2 separate regions of the Homo sapiens genome follow, and region 2 is linked to region 1. The links come from fine-mapping of genetic effects on gene expression. A gene starts in region 1. The other region holds a variant in brackets. All regions are shown on one strand. Distances are from middle to middle.

What was found.
Region 2: its variant is fine-mapped to the expression of SCARF2 in monocytes (TOPMed, PIP above 0.99).

The regions. Positions count from the first base shown.
Region 1 is chr22:20,433,320-20,441,639 of GRCh38, reverse strand. SCARF2 (scavenger receptor class F member 2) reads left to right here and starts at 3,815. Exons shown (of 11, transcript NM_182895.5): 1 at 3,815-4,058. The coding sequence starts at 3,886. It overlaps LOC107985588 (a long non-coding RNA gene), which reads right to left and starts at 3,644. Exons shown (of 2, transcript XR_001755623.2): 1 at 3,129-3,644. It overlaps KLHL22 (kelch like family member 22), which reads left to right. Exons shown (of 7, transcript NM_032775.4): 7 at 1-121.
Region 2 is chr22:20,596,194-20,604,513 of GRCh38, reverse strand. It overlaps the pseudogene CCDC74BP1. Among named protein-coding and RNA genes, the nearest start is that of MED15, 93 kb to the right of the region's middle. RefSeq lists a silencer at 3,837-4,027. The variant A/G (reference allele first, on the strand shown) is at 3,279.

The sequences.
Region 1 (8,320 bases):
GCAGAGATGCATCAGCTCGCCTGGGACTGGCTCTGTGATAAAAAGACCCCTCCCGCTGGGTTTTCAGACCCCATGTTGTTGGTCAATGAAATAAAGCATCTTACAGAAGGTGTTAACTGTTTTTCTGTAGCCACAGCCTCAGTTCCTTTCCACAGTGCACCCAAGCTGCGTCCCCAGGAAGCGTGGCTTCTGGGGTCAGAGCTGCCATCTGGGAGAGGCTGTGGAAGCCCAGGCCAGAAGCCAAGTGGCACTGGGAAGACCCTGCCTGAGAGGGAAGCACAGTAAACTCCACAAGCTAACAGGGCACTCAGTGGGAAAGCTGGAACTCGCCCTGGTCTGGTGACAGGTGGTTGTGCAGCCACTTGAGTGTCTTCTCTGGTGTGGAACTTGTCTCCCAACCAGGGCAGCACGCAGAGTTTCAGCCCAGCTCGTTAGGAGTCTCTCAGCCTGAGGGTCAGGGAACCAGAGCTTCAGCACCTGGGAGCGGGGCAGCATCAGGGGGTCGGTGGGGGGGGCCCCTCTGGCCTGTGCCCGGCTCCTCCCAACCTCCTGAAGCTGAGTGTGCTGGGGAGGGGAGCTGCATGTGCTACAGGTTTGCCAGGTAACCCTTAGGCACCCAGTCTCAAGGACCACACTGGCACAGCAGCTGGGACCCTCCCCTGTTCACCTGTCCCCATGCTTTTCTTGCCCTCTTGAGACTGCCAGGCTTAGCCTGCACCCTGCATGGATGGGCTGTGAGCCCACACCAGCCTCACTGCAGGGCTGCACCACACGAAGCTTTCTTCCATCCTGATGCCCTCATAGGGTCTGCACCTGCAGACTCCTACTATGAGCCTTGTGCCCAGAGCCATCCCGCAGACAGGGCTGTAACTTGCCAAGGCCCCATCCTTTCCCAGTTGACTGGGCAGAGCATGGGGACAGCCATGTGTTCCTGCTGGCATCCTGTCCCGGAAGAGAAGGGGGCAGTGTGTGCTCCTTGATGGGAGGAGAGGGGATGGGGACGGGGGACTATCAGTCACTCTGGGCTCTCCTAAATGGATACCCCAAGGATTCTTGAGGGTAGAGACAAAGCCCTCAGAGTTGGCCTGTGCCCCCAGGGCTGTGGTATGTGGGTGTGTGTGTAACCTGAAGACCTTCCTCACTGTCCTGGGCCCTGAGTACCCCTGAGGAAACATGACATTGCCTTGGGGTGGCAGACCCAGTGTTGAGCCCTAGTGGGGCGGGATGGCTATACACTCCAGTGTCATCTCCCTTTCTCCTGAGGGTGAGGCGCAAGAGCATGGGTTCAGAGTAGGAACCCCACTCTGTGGGTCTCAGACCCAGCACTTCCTGTGTCTCTGCTACCACCTGGCAGGCCAGGGCAATAGCTCCTGCAGACCTCAGAGGTTTCTGGAAAGGAGGAGCACCAGACATGCCCCACCACTCTCCAGTGCGTCCTGACAACATGCTGGCTGGCAACATCTCACCTGAGCCACCAGCCACAGCCACAGGTTTGCAGGAGGCCTCTGGTCTGCAGGGGCAGGAAGGGCTCACTGAGGTCCTGCACAGCCTGGGGAGGGGTGGAGAGTGCCTTGGAGTTGGGCGCAGCCTGGCCCTGCCACTGTCAGCCTTGGGGCTAAGCTGGGTTTCTAAGGGTTACACCTGATACCCCGGAGCTGAGGCAGCCCAACTTGTGCTCTCCAGTGTGGCTAGGCTCTTGGTCCCTGCTTTCATGCAAAACCCTCCTCAGCCTTCAAAGTCCACTTCCTTCTGGCAGCCATCCTGGCCAAAACCAGCAGGCCAGGGCTCCGGGCTCCAGCAGTTTGCCTGCGTGGTGGTCAATTGTCTGTGGGTTCCTTCTACATCCTAGTGCCATGTGGATGATCCTTCATTCCTCCCATACTTCTCAGTCTTCCCCTAGGGGTGCAGTGGTGGTTGGGAGAAATGAGGGCTCTGCCCATGACACCCAAAGTTGCCATCTACTGCAAGGGATGTATGTACCGGGTCGTGAGGTGAGACTGGGGATGGTCCTCATCCTGAGAGCAGTGGTGGATAGCCACATGTGAGATTAAAAAGACTACTCTGGGTGGCAGACAGGGGTGGGCAGAGATCTAAGACATTTAGGAGGTCCTGGGGGATTGGGGGGCACCATCCAGGTGGTGCCCTCCCTGGACAGGTCTGGGGGAAGGAGAAAGGTGATGGAATTTGATATGCCTATTCATGACCTCCATCCAGCTGAGGTGAGTGTCCCCTCCAGCCCAGGGGGTCAGTGCCTCTAAAGCCAGGAGCTGGGCTGGGACAGACCTTGCAGCCACTGGGACCTCTGCTGGCCTCTATTGGGAGCCGCAATCCGGATCCTCCGTGGGAGGGGCCCCAGCACTGGGAGGGCATTGCTGAGGTCAGGGCTGTGCCCAGGCTGAGCTGCCCAGAAGTGGTTGGCCTGTTTATTTGTCCCCAGGTAGTTGCATTCGTGTCCACACTAGTTCCACTTCTCTTTCAGCCCACCCCACCTCCCTCCTGCACCAGCATGGCTGAGTGAGGGGCCTGCTCCTCCCCATCCCACTCTCTGCCTGTGCCAGCCTGGTGATGCCCATGGCCTTGGGCCTTTCAGTGGCTCCTCCTCCAAGCCCCCTCCTCCAGCCCCACCCTTCGGGGCTATCTGGCCACACCTGGACAGAGTCTGCCTGCCCTCCCTCAGTGAGCCTGTGGGCCGCATGTGGCCTGCTCCCCAAAGAACGGAGGTGCCCGCTCCCTGCTTAGGCCTTCTGCCAGCTCTCAAGTCCCCAAAAGACAAACATCCTCACTAGGACCTGGCTACACACGGGACATTTGTGCTCCCTGCCCAACTTCCAGAGTCGGTCTGCCCCAGTTGCCCCCCGGGGACCCGCACCCTGCTGCCTCCCAGTCCAAGTCCAGCTTCCCCGCTGGCTCCCTAGGGCCTGTCCCTCTGTCTTGCTCCCTTCCCACACCTTCCTTCTGCTCTGTGCTGTTACCCACCTTACCTGATGCAGGAGTTCCCACTCTCTAGCCCCAGCCTCTCCTGGAAATCCGACAGCCAGCAGAATCCACCGCCCAGGCTCCCCCAGCCCCCTTCACTCCTCAACTAGGACTGCAGGGTTTCCATCCCGGGGGTCTCCTTCTGTCTTTACCTCTACTTCCTACCGCAGTCCACAGCCTGGCCATTCTACTTCCTCTGTATCTCTCCCATCCGTCCCTACGGAGACCCCTTCCCCCAGGCCTCTGGTCCGGACCGAGTCTACCACAGGCCTCAAGCATCCTGCTCGGTCCGCCCCTTGCGAGCTCTGAGTGCGCAGGAGTGCGCAGGGGGAGCTGACCGCACACCCCAGCACTACAAGGACTTCGCGGTGGGGTGCTGTGGAGTTGGCTTTCGGCCTCGACCTGGGCTGTCTGCGGGCCCCACTCCCTTGGCCGGTTCCGAGGCGCTGGGAGCGGGGGTGGGCTTGCGGAGTCGCGTCCGTGTCCCCGATCCGCCTTCCCGTCCCGGGCCTGGCCTACGCAGTGGGCGCGCAGGGGCGGCTGCTTCGGTAGATGTCTAGGGAGCGGAGGGAAAGGCGCGGGAACCGGGGATTCCTCGGGCGGACCCTCCCTCCACCAGCGCTCGGCGGGCCTCCTCCAAGTTCGCCCCCAAGTTTGCGAGCGGCCAAATGGGGGCGGGGGCTGCGCGGAGGGGCGGTGGCTAGGCCGGAGGGTGGGGTCTGGAGCGCGGGGCGGGCGCTGCCGCCTGGCCGGCCGCGGCTGGCCCGGGATCAGGGAGCCGATGTGGAATTTCCTGCCCGGCTCGGCGCCCCTCCTGCCGCCCCCCGCCCGGCCTCGCACTCCGCTTCCGGCCGCTCTCGCTGCGGCCGCACCCGCGCCCGTGCCCGCCCCGCGCCTGCCCCGCGCCTCATGGAGGGCGCAGGGCCCCGGGGGGCCGGGCCGGCGCGGCGCCGGGGAGCCGGGGGGCCGCCGTCACCGCTGCTGCCGTCGCTGCTGCTGCTGCTGCTGCTCTGGATGCTGCCGGACACCGTGGCGCCTCAGGAACTGAACCCTCGCGGCCGCAACGTGTGCCGTGCTCCCGGGTAGGAGCCGGCCTGGCTGGGGGAGGGGGCGAGAGGGACGCTCTGGGCAGTGGTGTGGCGGCGCCGGGCATTGGGAGGGGGCTACCGGAACCTTCCTACGCCAAGTGTGGGCCCCTTCGGCTCCCTAGCCAGCGCGGCTCCGTTCCAGGCCCAGCCTCGGCCATGGGCCACGACAGTGCATCCCAGGGAACCCTGGACGAGAAGTCACCTGAGGGGAGGATGGAGTGCCGTGGGCACCCAGGGGATGACACGCGTTGTCCGGGATATCAGGAAAGACCTGGAAAAAGGGACCCTTGACCGAGTTGTGAAGTCCACGGGGAAAAGCTGGGGAAGGGCATTCAAGCCAAAGGAACTGCATGTGCTAAAGCCCCGCACTAGTCCGACTGGAGCCGGGAGTGGGAGTGAGGAGGAAGGTCAGGGGAGGAGGAGCGGTGCTAGCCGGGGAGGTCCTGGAGCAAGCCAGACTTGGAAAGACAGATTCGCGTCTTAGAGCGGGCGCGGGTGGGAGGGTGGTGACCCAGGCGAGCGTCGAGGAGCCGGCGCTCGAAGTGGACCAGAAGCGGGAGGCGGAAGGACTATGACAGGCACAGGGGACCGGAGGATGTGGGAACCCTGGCGACAACCAGGTGGGGATTCTGGGTGCAAGAAGGGGCCGCGCAAATGTGGGGCGCCGGCTGGGGAAGCCAGTGTGGGACAGGCAGGCGACAGGCCCGGCCGGTGGGGGGGCGAGTCCGGGAGTTTGCACGGAGGGCAGAGAGGTGAGCCCCGGACGCCAGGAGTTAGGAGCTGGGGTCGGGGGAGCCGGTGGGCTGGCCAAAGGCCACAAGGTCAAGGGCATCTCCACGCAGGGGTGAGGAGCGGGCGTGTGGGGGCGCCTTGGCGCGGATTGGAGACGCCGCACGGGCTGGCAGCCGCAGAGGCGGCCGCCGGGCTCCGAGCTGGGTCGCGTCGGGGCGCCTGAGCCACGGACCCGGGGCAAGCCGAGTCCAGGGGCTCGGCGCCAGAGACAAGGGGCTGCGAGGGGGCAGCGCGGGGTTTCCGAACTCTGGTCCGGAGGCGCGCAGACCCCTCCCCGCTGCGAGCCCCGCCTCCGGGGCGGGGGCCGGCCTGGCCCGCCATCTGCTTCGCATCGATGCCGCCGCCGCGGACTCCCGGGCCTCCCCGGCCCCAGGAATGCAGCGGCGGCGGCGGGCGGGGCGGTGCCTGGAGAGGGGGAGGGCGCGATCGCCGTGGTCTCTGTCTACTCACTCCAGCCCTCTTTCCCAGACAGGCCCGGGACCAGGAATGGGGGTCCGGTGCCAGGCTCTAGCTGTCCGGAGCCTGAGAGCCCTTTGCTCCCGCTCCCCTGGTCTGCAGACCTCCCAGGAGGCGCCTGCTCCAGGAACCGAGCCTGGGTTTGGGTTCCCATCCTGGTGCCACCCTACCCAGCTGTGTGGACCTGGGCAAGTCATTTGACCTCTCTGGGCCTGTCTCCACCTCTGTAAAATGGGATAGTGATCACAACCCCCTCATGGGGCTAAGTGGAGATCGCTGTGGTCATGAGTGGCAAGGGTCGATGGGAAGGACAGCCACTCTGGGCACTGCCCACCTGGGGTCTGGGTCATGTCTTTGTTGTCCTCCCACATCTTGCAAGGCTTCCATCAGCCCTTCCCTTTCCTGGGAGGCAGGAGGATGGGGAGAGGAGAGTGCAAAGCCAGTAAAATCCTATGCACCTACACTGTGCCAGGCCTGTATTGGTGTAGGGAAGCTGCAGTGGAGACCCTGACCCTGTGGCAGAGGAGACACAGTCCAGAAAAGCAAGTGTGTCTAGACATCTAGCAAGAGCTGGGAGGTGTTGGGTTGGGGAGTGCTGTTTCCTTTAGGGTGTTCTGAGGAGAACGGCTGAGAAGGTGGTGAGTGAGCACAGGCCTGCAGAAGAGCACGGAGGCCCTGTGGGTGTCTGGGGCAAGGTTCCCAAGGCAGAGGGCCTGTGGAAGTACAGGAAGGATCCAGGAGGCTGGGCAGAGTCCAGGAGGGGCTGGCGGAGGAGCTGCCAGAGAGTGAGGGTGGGCAGGCCACCGTGGGCTGCCACTGCTCAGAAGACTTGGGCTTTTCTTCTGAGGGCCATGGGACCCCCTGGGGGCTTTGTACAGAGAAAGGGTGGGATCTGACCAGGATTGGCTGCCAGGTGGCAAACACTTCGCACCCTGGGGGGCAGGGGGTGGAAGCTGGGGCCAGTTACAAAAAGCCAGGGAGATGGAGGGTGGCTCTCACAAGGCTGGGATAGGGAAGGAGGAAGTGATCCCATTTTAGATATCGTTTAGAAGCTAGAGCTCAGCGTCTTTTTTCTCAATGGATCTGGTGTAGACAAGAAAGAAGAGTCAGAGATGCTTCTCCAGGTCTCAGCTTCCCAGCCTGAAAGGACAGGCAGGGTTATCTGAGGCAGGGAAGACTCAGGGTGCAAGGAGGTCAAGAGTTCAGGTTTGGGCTGGTTGGGCATGAGGCCCATGAGGTCTCCTTCTGGTGACATCATCTATTGGGCAGTTGGATTTGCAAGTCTAGCATTGATGGGGAGAGCCCTGCTGGAGGGTCCAAGGTGTTGTCAGTGTTCAGTGAGCTTCCCGAGGGAGCTAGTGTGGACACAAGAGAGATCTGAGGATGGGGACAGAAACCAGAGGAGAGGTGTCCAGGCGGGGCAGCAGGAGGGTCGGGCTGGTGTGGGGTCTGAAGGGTGTGGCAGGCAGAGAAGCTTTTCTGCCTGGATTTGGGGGAGAACATGGACAGGTATGGACCCCATGAGCCAACTTGAAGATGTAAGAACTCACAGTGGGTTTGAATCACAGAACTAATGCTCTACGAGGGAGAAGCCTACGGCATGTCTTGCTTGCTGAGGGGCCTGGGCCCAGCCTATGGCCTGGCTTCTGAGGGTCTTGCCGACTTACAGGGCAAGCGTGGGAGCAGCCCTGCAGCAGGCCATCTTTCCCCACCCGTCTTTGTAAGATCTTCAGAGAGTGGGCTTGCCACCACCACCCGGCCTTTTCTGCCAGCCCTTCCAAGAAGGAAAGCATCTTGTTCTCAGTGAACCCAAATGGACTCTGTCCTGCTGGTGGGCATTAGCTCTGCTGGGGTTAGGCCTGGGTGCCCGCTAAACCAGAGATGACCGAGTGCACTCAGAGGCACTGCAGCCTGTGCTCAGGATCCTTTGTGCTTAGTATGTGCCAAACCACTTCATAGGTCTTGGCGCGCGCTCTCTTTCTCTCTGTCGTCTTTCTCTGTCTCTCTCTCTCTCCTATCTCTATCTCTCTTTTTGAGACAGGGTTTCACTCTGTTGCCCAGGCTGGAGAGCAGTGGTGCCATCACAGCTCACTGCAGCCTCAAACTCCTTGGGCTCAAGCAATCCTCTTGCCTCAGCTTCCTGAGTAGCTGGGATTATAGGTACATGCCAGCACGCCCGGCAAAAAAACATCTTGGCTCTCTTAATCTTTCTACAGTAGAGCCCTACTATATAGCTAAGGAGCCTGAAGCTCAAAGAGCTTAAGCTGCATGCCTGAGGTCACACAGCAAGTGGCAAACCCAGACATCAAACCCAGCTGAGTGTGGCCCTAAAACGAGGGTCCTAGCCACAGAGCCTTATGTCCAGGGCAGAAGGGGGTTAGTGCTTCCGGGGCAATTCCAGCAGGCCACCTGGCAAAGCTCCCCACAGGAGGGACACCTGCAGAGGCTCTCCATCCAGTGAACATGGTTCAGAAGCAGACACAAGTGGGTGGGTGATGGCCAGCAGACCTGGGTCTCCCTGCAGATGGGCACCTTGGTGCCCCCTGGGTCAGGGCTGGGTGGGTGGAGACAGTGGGGGCAGGGGCCAGGAAAAGCCAGGCCTTTGTATTCCTGTCTCTGGTTTCCAGTTTTATTGTGGAAAATACACTGGACCAATTCCCCAAAGTTTGAGATTTTATGGTCCTGTTCGCCAGGTCCCATCTTTGGCCTGAAGGAGAACCAAGCCTTGTTCAGGAGGAGGGGCCTCGAGGCCTAGGTGCTCTGTACAAGGGGTGGTATTCTGTCTAGCTGGGGAATGGCTGGGGCATCCTCGGAAGCCTGGGCAGGAGCATGCCAGGCATGTACTATCCTGAAATGCATGGTGTAGGGCCAGTCTATCCCATCCCGCTAGGGTCTTCAGGCTTCCTCCCAAACTCCGCCCCCCACCACCTTCCGGTTCTAGATTCAGATACTGAATCCAAGCCTGCTTGTGAAGAAGCGTGCTCCTTTTCTCTAAAGTGCGAATGGCT
Region 2 (8,320 bases), 160 kb before region 1:
GCACACGGCCAGGTCCATCTCGGACCAGTGTGTGGAGACTCCAGCTGGCCACTCCTTCCTGTTGTGGCTGGGCTTTGGCCCCACAGACACCAACGGCTCCTATTCAGCCATGACCTGGGCGAGATGGGGCAGGACAGCGTCCAGAAGATGGACGAGTGCCTGGAGGAGGCCCTGGCGTACCTGCGCCAGATATTCCGAGTATGAGCAATGGGGCCTGTTCCACGGCCGTTAGGGTCCCCTTCCCCGAAGGATCCACTCCCCCTTTGCCCATGGTCAGCATGCATCCGTCCCAGGCCCCATGCAGATGAACCCGGTGTTGTGGGAGGCAGGCCCACACCCCGAGTGTCATGTCCGGGTGCTCTCGTTGCCACTGTTAGAGGCTGGTGGGGTGAAGACTGGTGTTCCTTTGCCTTGACACTGAGGGCAGAGGAGCTTCTCTCTCTCTGGTAGCTCAGTGAAGTGCAGCTCACGCAGAGTCTCTCACACTTGCCTTGGACACCATCCAGGATGAGAATGGAAAGAAGCAGCTCCGGACTGCATCGCGGGTGAGGACAGACTCATCCCCACGCCCCTGGGCCAGTACCAGGTGAGAGGCCCAAGTCCCAGAGGTGCATGGGTTGGGCCCTGACGTGTCCCCAGCTCCCTCCTCCCCTGTGAGCAGAGATGGCTTGGCTCTTCTGAGTTGTGTGCAGGGGCCATGTTTCCTTTTCTCTTCTTTCTTTTTTTTGAAACAAGGTTTCCCTCTCTTGCCCAGGCTGGAGTGCAGTGGCATGATCTTGGCTCACTGAAACTTCCACCTCCTGGGTTCAAGCGATTCTCCCACCTCAGCCTCCTGAATAGCTGGGATTACAGGCACATGCCACCATGCCTGGCTAACTTTTTTTTTTTTTTGAGACGGAGTCTTGCTCTGTAGCCCAGGCTGGAGTGCAGTGGCGCAATCTCGGCTCACTGCAAGCTCCACCTCCTGGGTTCACGCTATTCTCCTGCCTCAGCCTCCTGAGTAGCTGGAACTACAGGTGCCCGCCACCAAGCCCAGCTAATTTTTTTTTGTATTTTTTTTAGTAGAGACGGGGTTTCGCAGTGTTAGCCAGGATGGTCCTGATCTCCCGACCTCGTGATCCACCTGCCTCAGCCTCCCAGAGTGCTGGGATTACAGGTGTGAGCCACTGCACCTGGCCAATTTTTGTATTTTTAATAGAGACGGGGTTTCATCATATCGATCAGGCTGGTCTCTAACTCCCGACCTTGTGATCCGCCCGCCTCGGCCTCCCGGAGTGCTGGGATTACAGGCATGAGCCACTGCACCTGGCCAGGGCCATGTTTTCTGGCCCAACCCTATAGCCTGGGTTTCTAGATCATCAACAGGCTGCAAAGGTTTGAAATTGAGTACCAGGGGGACCCGGAGCTGCAGCCCCTCTGGAGTTATGAGATTACCAGCTTGGTCTGAGCATCCTTCCGGCTGTCATCTGCCATCAAACACAGAGTGAGTGGGCAGGAGGGCTGGCCTGGCCTCTTCAGAGAGGGTTCTGGGTGCTCCTGCCTGGGGTGCAGTCTCAGGGTGGCCTGTGGGGGTGGGGTGCAGCTGTCCTGAGGCCTGTGGTGCCACCACCCCATGCCCCCGTGCCACTGCCTGCGCTTCAGTTTGCAGACCAGATGGCGGCTCTGTGTTCCTGAGATGACTTCCTTGCCAGCTTCTGTTGCTACCACCTCACAGAGCCCACGCTGGCCAGCGGCCACAGGCTCAACCTGCACTTCCTAGGCAGCTACCTGACACTGCCCTGGCTACTGCTGGCTTTCTTCATGGCCTCTCTGTTCTGCATCAGGCCCCTCACCTGTGCACTGCTGTTCACCCTGGGCTACGCCCTCTACTCCTTGGCCATGATGTTGCTGACCAGGTGGGGAAGCTGCACCAGCCCTGATGGCATTGGAGGTGGGAGGCCACTCCAGGTGGGAACATGGTTATCTTTGGGCTCCTGGTGGGGGCAGGGGGGTTCCTGCAGTCGTGGATGCATCTAGGGGAAATGGGACTAAAAAGGGAAGAAGGTAGCTTCAATAAAATCTAGTGCTTAAAGACACAGCAACTGTTCGATGATATTGAAGTATTCAAAATATATGACAACTACAGATTCACTGACAGAAACCACCACGGGGTATCTCACACCTTCATTCACCCCACAGATGACACACCAGGGAGAACAGCGTCTCGGTGGTGATTTTTTTTTTTTTTTTTTTGAGACAGAGTCTTGCTCTGTAGCCCAGGCTGCAGTGCGGCGGTGCGATCATGGCTCACTGCAACCTCCGCCTCCCAGGTTCAAGTGATTCTCCTGCCTCAGCCTCCCGAATAGCTGGGATTACAGGCATGCGCCACCATGCCCAGCTAATTTTTGTATTTTTAGTAGAGATGGGGTTTCACCATGTTAGTCAGGCTGGTTTCAAATTCCTGACCTCATGTTAGCCACCCACCTCAGCCTCCCAAAGTGCTGGGCTTACAGGTGTGAGCCAGCGCGCCCGGCCAGTGCTTTGTATTTTTATGTAAACTCAGAATACAGGTATTTTAGGGCCTGTGACCAAAAACCAAACCAAGCTTGTAACTCCACCAGGGATCTGAATAAACCTGCCCTTGCTTTTGAGTTTTCCGCCGCCTAGGCTCAGTATCCAGGCGGTTCACCCATACAGGGTCCCTGACCACGTGGGGGCTGTGGAAACAACTGCTGGGCACCCTGTTGGCCCCTCACCCCAGTGTCCACGGGCCTGGCCCTCTGGTTTCCTTTGCTTTCCTTGCCCAGGGGCACAGTAGACTCGGCAGCAGCAAAACCAAGGCGCATATTAACACTGAAGTGCCTGAGACAGAAAGGGGCTGGGCCGGAGCCATGTGAATTTTGCCTTCTACTCAATATCAACGTTGAGTAGATTGGCCTGTAATCCCAGAAGTTTGAGAAACCAAGGCAGGGAGGATCACTTGAGTCCAGGAGTTTAAGCCCAGCCTGGGCAACACAGCAAGACCCCATCCCTACAAAAGATTCAAAAAGTTGGCTGGGCGCGTGGCCCACGCCTGTAATCCCAGCACTTTGGGAGGTCAAGACAGGCAGATCACCTGAGGTCAGGAGTTCAAGATCAGCCTGGCCAACATGGTGAAACTTTGTCTCTACTAAAGACATAAAAATTAGCTAGGTGTGGTGCCACCTACCTGTAATCCCAGCTACTCGGGAGAGGCAGGAGAATCACTTGAACCTGGGAGCTGGAGGTTGCAGTAAGCCAAGATTGTGCCACTGCACTCC[A/G]GCCTGGGTGACAGAGTGAGACTCCGTCTCAAAAAAAAAAAAAAAAAAGATTCAAAAAGCTAGGTGTGGTGGCTCACACATGTGGTCTCAGCTACTTGACAGGCTGAGGTGGGAGGATCACCCGGGCTCAGAAGGTCAAGGCTGCAGTGAATGATCACGTCACCGCACTCCAGCCTGGGCGACAGAGCGAGACTCTGTCTCCAAAAAAAAACAAGCTGACGACCTGAAACATATGCCACCATGTCTGTGGCTTCCAGAAGCTCTGAGGATCTCGGGAGTGGCTGGGGACTGTGCACTCAGCCCCAGGGCAGCGTCTGGCCAGGAATGGAGGCAGACACAACCTACTGAGTAGAGAACTAAGAACAGCAAAGCCAAGTGAGGAGGCAGGGTCTTGGTGGTTGGGGCCTGGACACTGGAGAGAAAAGGGGACTACTGGCACGAGAGCAGAAGCAAAATGCAGTTGGGGGTTCCCAGCCAGGAGGCACTGGGGGGGACTTCCAGGGAAGGTCTGGGGTTGGAGCAACCCAGGAACCAGTTCTGGGGCACAAGGAGGAGGAAGCTCTGGGGACTTCTAGGAGGGAGGCTGGTGGCCGGGGTCCTGAGGAGGCCAGGCTAGAGGCAGGAGTTCTTGCACATTCTCGTCTCTCCACCCCGGACGCCTCCAGAGTGGTTTACTCTAACCGCCACCACCTCCTCAACTCCTAGGATGCCCTCAACTTTTTGCCACTGGACCACACTTCCCTGCTGTGAACAGGCCAAATCTAGATGCTTCTCAGACCTCATGGCCTGGAGCCTCTGGCAGCACAGCTTCAGGCTCTCCAGACACCACCCCTGCTCCCTGCACCTCCACATCCCCCTCCTTGCACCAGGCAACGCTATTCCCCTGGAACCCATTTGTGGCCCACTCTCTTCCATGACCAACACATCCTATCTCTAGGATGTACCAGCACCCACATGATCCCAGGTGACTCAGATTCTGATCGCCTCATGCAGGCGACCCACAAGCAGAGGCCCTGTGTAATCAGGAGAACTCTATACCTTTCCTCTTGGACATCAAAGAGCAAGTTAGATCCCCTAAATGGCCAATAACTCTGACATTTCCAACATAGAGAGGACTCTTTGTATTTTTTTGAGACGAGGTCTTGCCATGTTGCCCAGGCTGGAGTGCAATGCACCATCATGGCTCGCTGCAACCTCCAAATCCTGGGCTCAAGCAATCCTCCCACATCAGCATCCCACCCAAGTAGCCAGGACTACAGGCACGCACCACCACACCCTGCTAATTTTTAAATTTTTTTGTAGAGATAGGGGTCTCACTACATTGCCAGGCTGGTCTTGAACTCCTGGGCTCAAGTGATTTGCCCGAAGCGCTGGGTTTATAGGTGTGAGCCACCACACTGGAGAGAGGACTCTTATGTAGCCTTCACTTTAAAAATTAAGCTAGCTTCCCTTGACTCTCAAAACCAGAATTCTTAGCAGAATTTTCCCAAGTGAGAAGGGGCCGAAATATATAAAATTATTTCCCAATCAAGAATTTCTACTTTTGGCCAGGCACAGTGGCTCACGCCTGTAATCCCAGCACTTTGGGAAGCCGAGGCAGGTGGATCGCCTGAGCTCAGGAGTTTGAGACCAGCCTGAGCAACATGGTGAAACCCCATCTCTACTAAAAATATAAAAAATTAGCCAGGCCATCATGGAGGCTCACACCTGTGGTCCCAGCTACTCAGAAGGCTGAGGTGGGAGGATCGCTTGAGCTTGGGAGAAAAAAAAAAAAAAAAGAATTCCTACTTTCTCCCAACGAGTATTCCAGCTATGAAAATCACCATTGACTTTAATATCCATGTGAATCTTTGTACGCCCTTAAGAGATCAGAAGAATGCAAAGAAGTGAGAAGAGGAGGAGGAGCAAATGCTTTCCAGCCACAGCAGGAGGCTGGCACTTTGGAGGGTGGAGGCCTTTTGACACCCAGCTCAGCCCAGGGGAGCACAGGGTCAAGCCGAGGGTCAGTCACCAGGCAACTTCTCTCTCCACTGTTGGGTCTTCCTGGCTTCAGCGCCTCTGCAGCCTCCTCCCTCCAGCTGCCTCCAGCTGTGCTGACCTCTGGGAGAGCAGCCAGGGAGCACCTGGCTGCATGTGCTGTCTCGGACTTCCCAAGGAGTGCTCAGAGCACTTTTTTCTCAAGATGCTCAGGGGAAAAGCTACTCGGGCCTTCTAGAGAACCAGACTTTGTCCTCTTAAGATTCAAAATGGTAAACCGGGCGCGGTAGCTCATGCCTGTAATCCCAGCACTTTGGGAGGCCGAGGCGGGTGGATCATCTGAGGTCGGGAGTTCGTGATCAGCTTGACCAACATGGGGAAACCCCATCTCTACTAAAAATACAAAATTAGCCAGGCATGGTGGCGCATGCCTGTAATCCCAGCTACTCAGGAAGGCTGAGGCAGGAGAATCGCTTGAACCCAGGAGGCGGACGGAGGTTGCGGTGAGCCGAGATCGCACCACTGTACTCCCGCCTGGGCAACAAGAGCAAAACACAGTCTCAAAAAAAAAAAAAGAAAAAAAAAAGATTCACAATGGAGACCGGGCCTGGCGGTTCACGCCTATCCTAGCATTTTGGGTGGGAGACCAAGATGGGAGGACTGCTTGAACCCAGGAGTTCAAGACCAGCCTTGGCAACATAGCAAGATCCTGTCTCTGTTAAACAAAACAAAACAAAACAAAAAACAGCCTAGGCAACATGGGGAGACCCTGTCTCTACAAACAATAAAAAATAAAACATTAGCGGCCGGGTGCGGTGGCTCACATCTGTAATCCCAGCACTTTGGGAGGCTGAGGCAGGTGGATCATGAGGTCAGGAGATCAAGACTATCCTGGGTAGCATGGTGAAAACCTGTATCTATTAAAAATACAAAAAATTAGCTGGGCGTAGTGGTGCATGCCTGTAATCTGAGCTACTCAGGAGGCTGAGGCAGCAGAATTGCTTGAACCCAGGAGGCGGAGGTTGCGGTGAGCCGAGATGGTGCCACTGCACTCCAGCCTGGGCAACAAGAGTGAAACTCAGTCTCAAAAAAAAAAAAAAAAGATTCACAGTGGAGACCGGGCCTGGTGGTTCATGCCTGTAATCCTAGCACTTTGGAAAACCAAGATGGGAGGACTGCTTGAGCCCAGGAGTTCAAGACCAGCCTGGGCAACATAGCAAGACCCTGTCTCTGTTTAAAAAAAAAAACAAAACAGCCTAGGCAACATAGGGAGACCCCCTCTCTACAAACAATAAAAAATAAAAAATTAGCGGCTGGGCACAGTGGCTCACGCCTGTAATCCCAGCACTTTGGGAGGCCAAGGCGGGCGGATCATGAGGTCAGATCGAGACCATCCTGGCTAACACAGTGAAATCCCGTCTCTACTAAAAATACAAAAAATTAGCTGGGCGTGGTGGTGGGCGCCTGTGGTCCCAGCTGCTCTGGAGGCTGAGGCAGGAGAATGGCGTGAACCCAGGAGGCGGAGCTTGCAGCGAGGCGAGATCATGCCACTGCACTACAGCCTGGGCCACAGAGCGAGACTCCGTCTCAAAAAAAAAAAAAAAAAAAAAAAAAGCCAGGGCTGGGCATGGTGTCTCATGCCTGTAATCCTAGCACTTTGTGAGGTCAAGGTGGGTGGGTCACTTGACATCAGGGGTTCGAGACCAGCCTGGCCAACATGGTGAAAGCCCATCTCTACTAAAAATACAAAAATTAGCCAGGCATGTTGGTGCATGCCTCTAATCCCAGCCACTCGGGAGGCTGAGGCAGGAGAATCACTTGAACCTGGGAGGCAGAGGTTACAGTGAGCCGAGATCATGCCACTGCTCTCCAGTCTGGGTGACAGAGTGAGACTCCTTCTAAAAAATAAATTAAAAATGAAAGTGATAAATTGGCAGCTGGCATCAGGGAGAGGCCAGTTCCTGATGGGTCACACCTGTTTCATTAAAGTGTTAATTGAATGCAGGCACCAGGGAGAAGCAATTTCCCCGGCCATGTGCATTAAGAGACAATGGCAGAGTATGACCTTCTGGGACGGAAGAAATCTTCAGATGGGCATGCGTACAGTTTCCTAAACACACTGCGTGTGCTCATCTCCCAAGGGTAAGGAGGACACTGTGCATGTAGGCAGCCCACCCTAGGGGAAGAATCTTGGGAAAGGGGTCAGTCTATAAAGTCCTAGAATCAAGGTTAAACACCGCACTTGACCTTTATGTGCCTGTTTAGGTCTCTTCCAAGAATACTTTCTTTCCTGTTGTAAAGCTTTTTTAAATAAACTTTCACTCCTCCTCCAAAACTTGCCTCGGTCTCTTTTTCTGCCTTATGCCCCTCAGTTGAATTCTTTTTTTTTTTGAGACGGAGTCTTGCTCTGTCGCCCAGGCTGGAGTGCAGTGGCGCGATCTCGGCTCACTGCAAGCTCCGCCTCCTGGGTTCCTGCCATTCTCCTGCCTCAGTCTCTCATGTAGCTGGGACAACAGGCACCCACCACCATGCCCGGCTAATTTTTGTATTTTTAGTAAAGACGAGGTTTCACCGTGTTAGCCAGGATGGTCTCGATCTCCTGACCTCGTGGTCTGCCCGCCTTGGCCTCCCAAAGTGCTGGGATTACAGGCGTGAGCCACCATGCCCGGCCAGTTGAATTCTTTTTTCTGAGGAGGCAAGAATTGAGGTTGCTGCAGACCCATACGGATTCGCTGCCACTAACTCAGACACCTTCCACTGCTAACACTGACTTTGTTATTGTGTTTATTTGGAGGTTAAGTATGGTTTAAGGAGATGTGTGTAGGTACCAGGTTGACAAGGGGTGGACTTGTGATGGTTAATTCTATATGTCAACTTGTCTGGGCCACTGGATGCACACATATCTGGTTACACATTATTTCTGGGCATGTGTGTGAGGGTGTTTTCAGAAGTAATTAGCATTTAAATTGGTGGTGCAAGCAGCCATGCCTATACTTCTGGGGTAGCTTCCCTATAGCTTGCAGGAGCCACAGCAGGCAATAAGAGCCCCATCCTCCAAATACTGG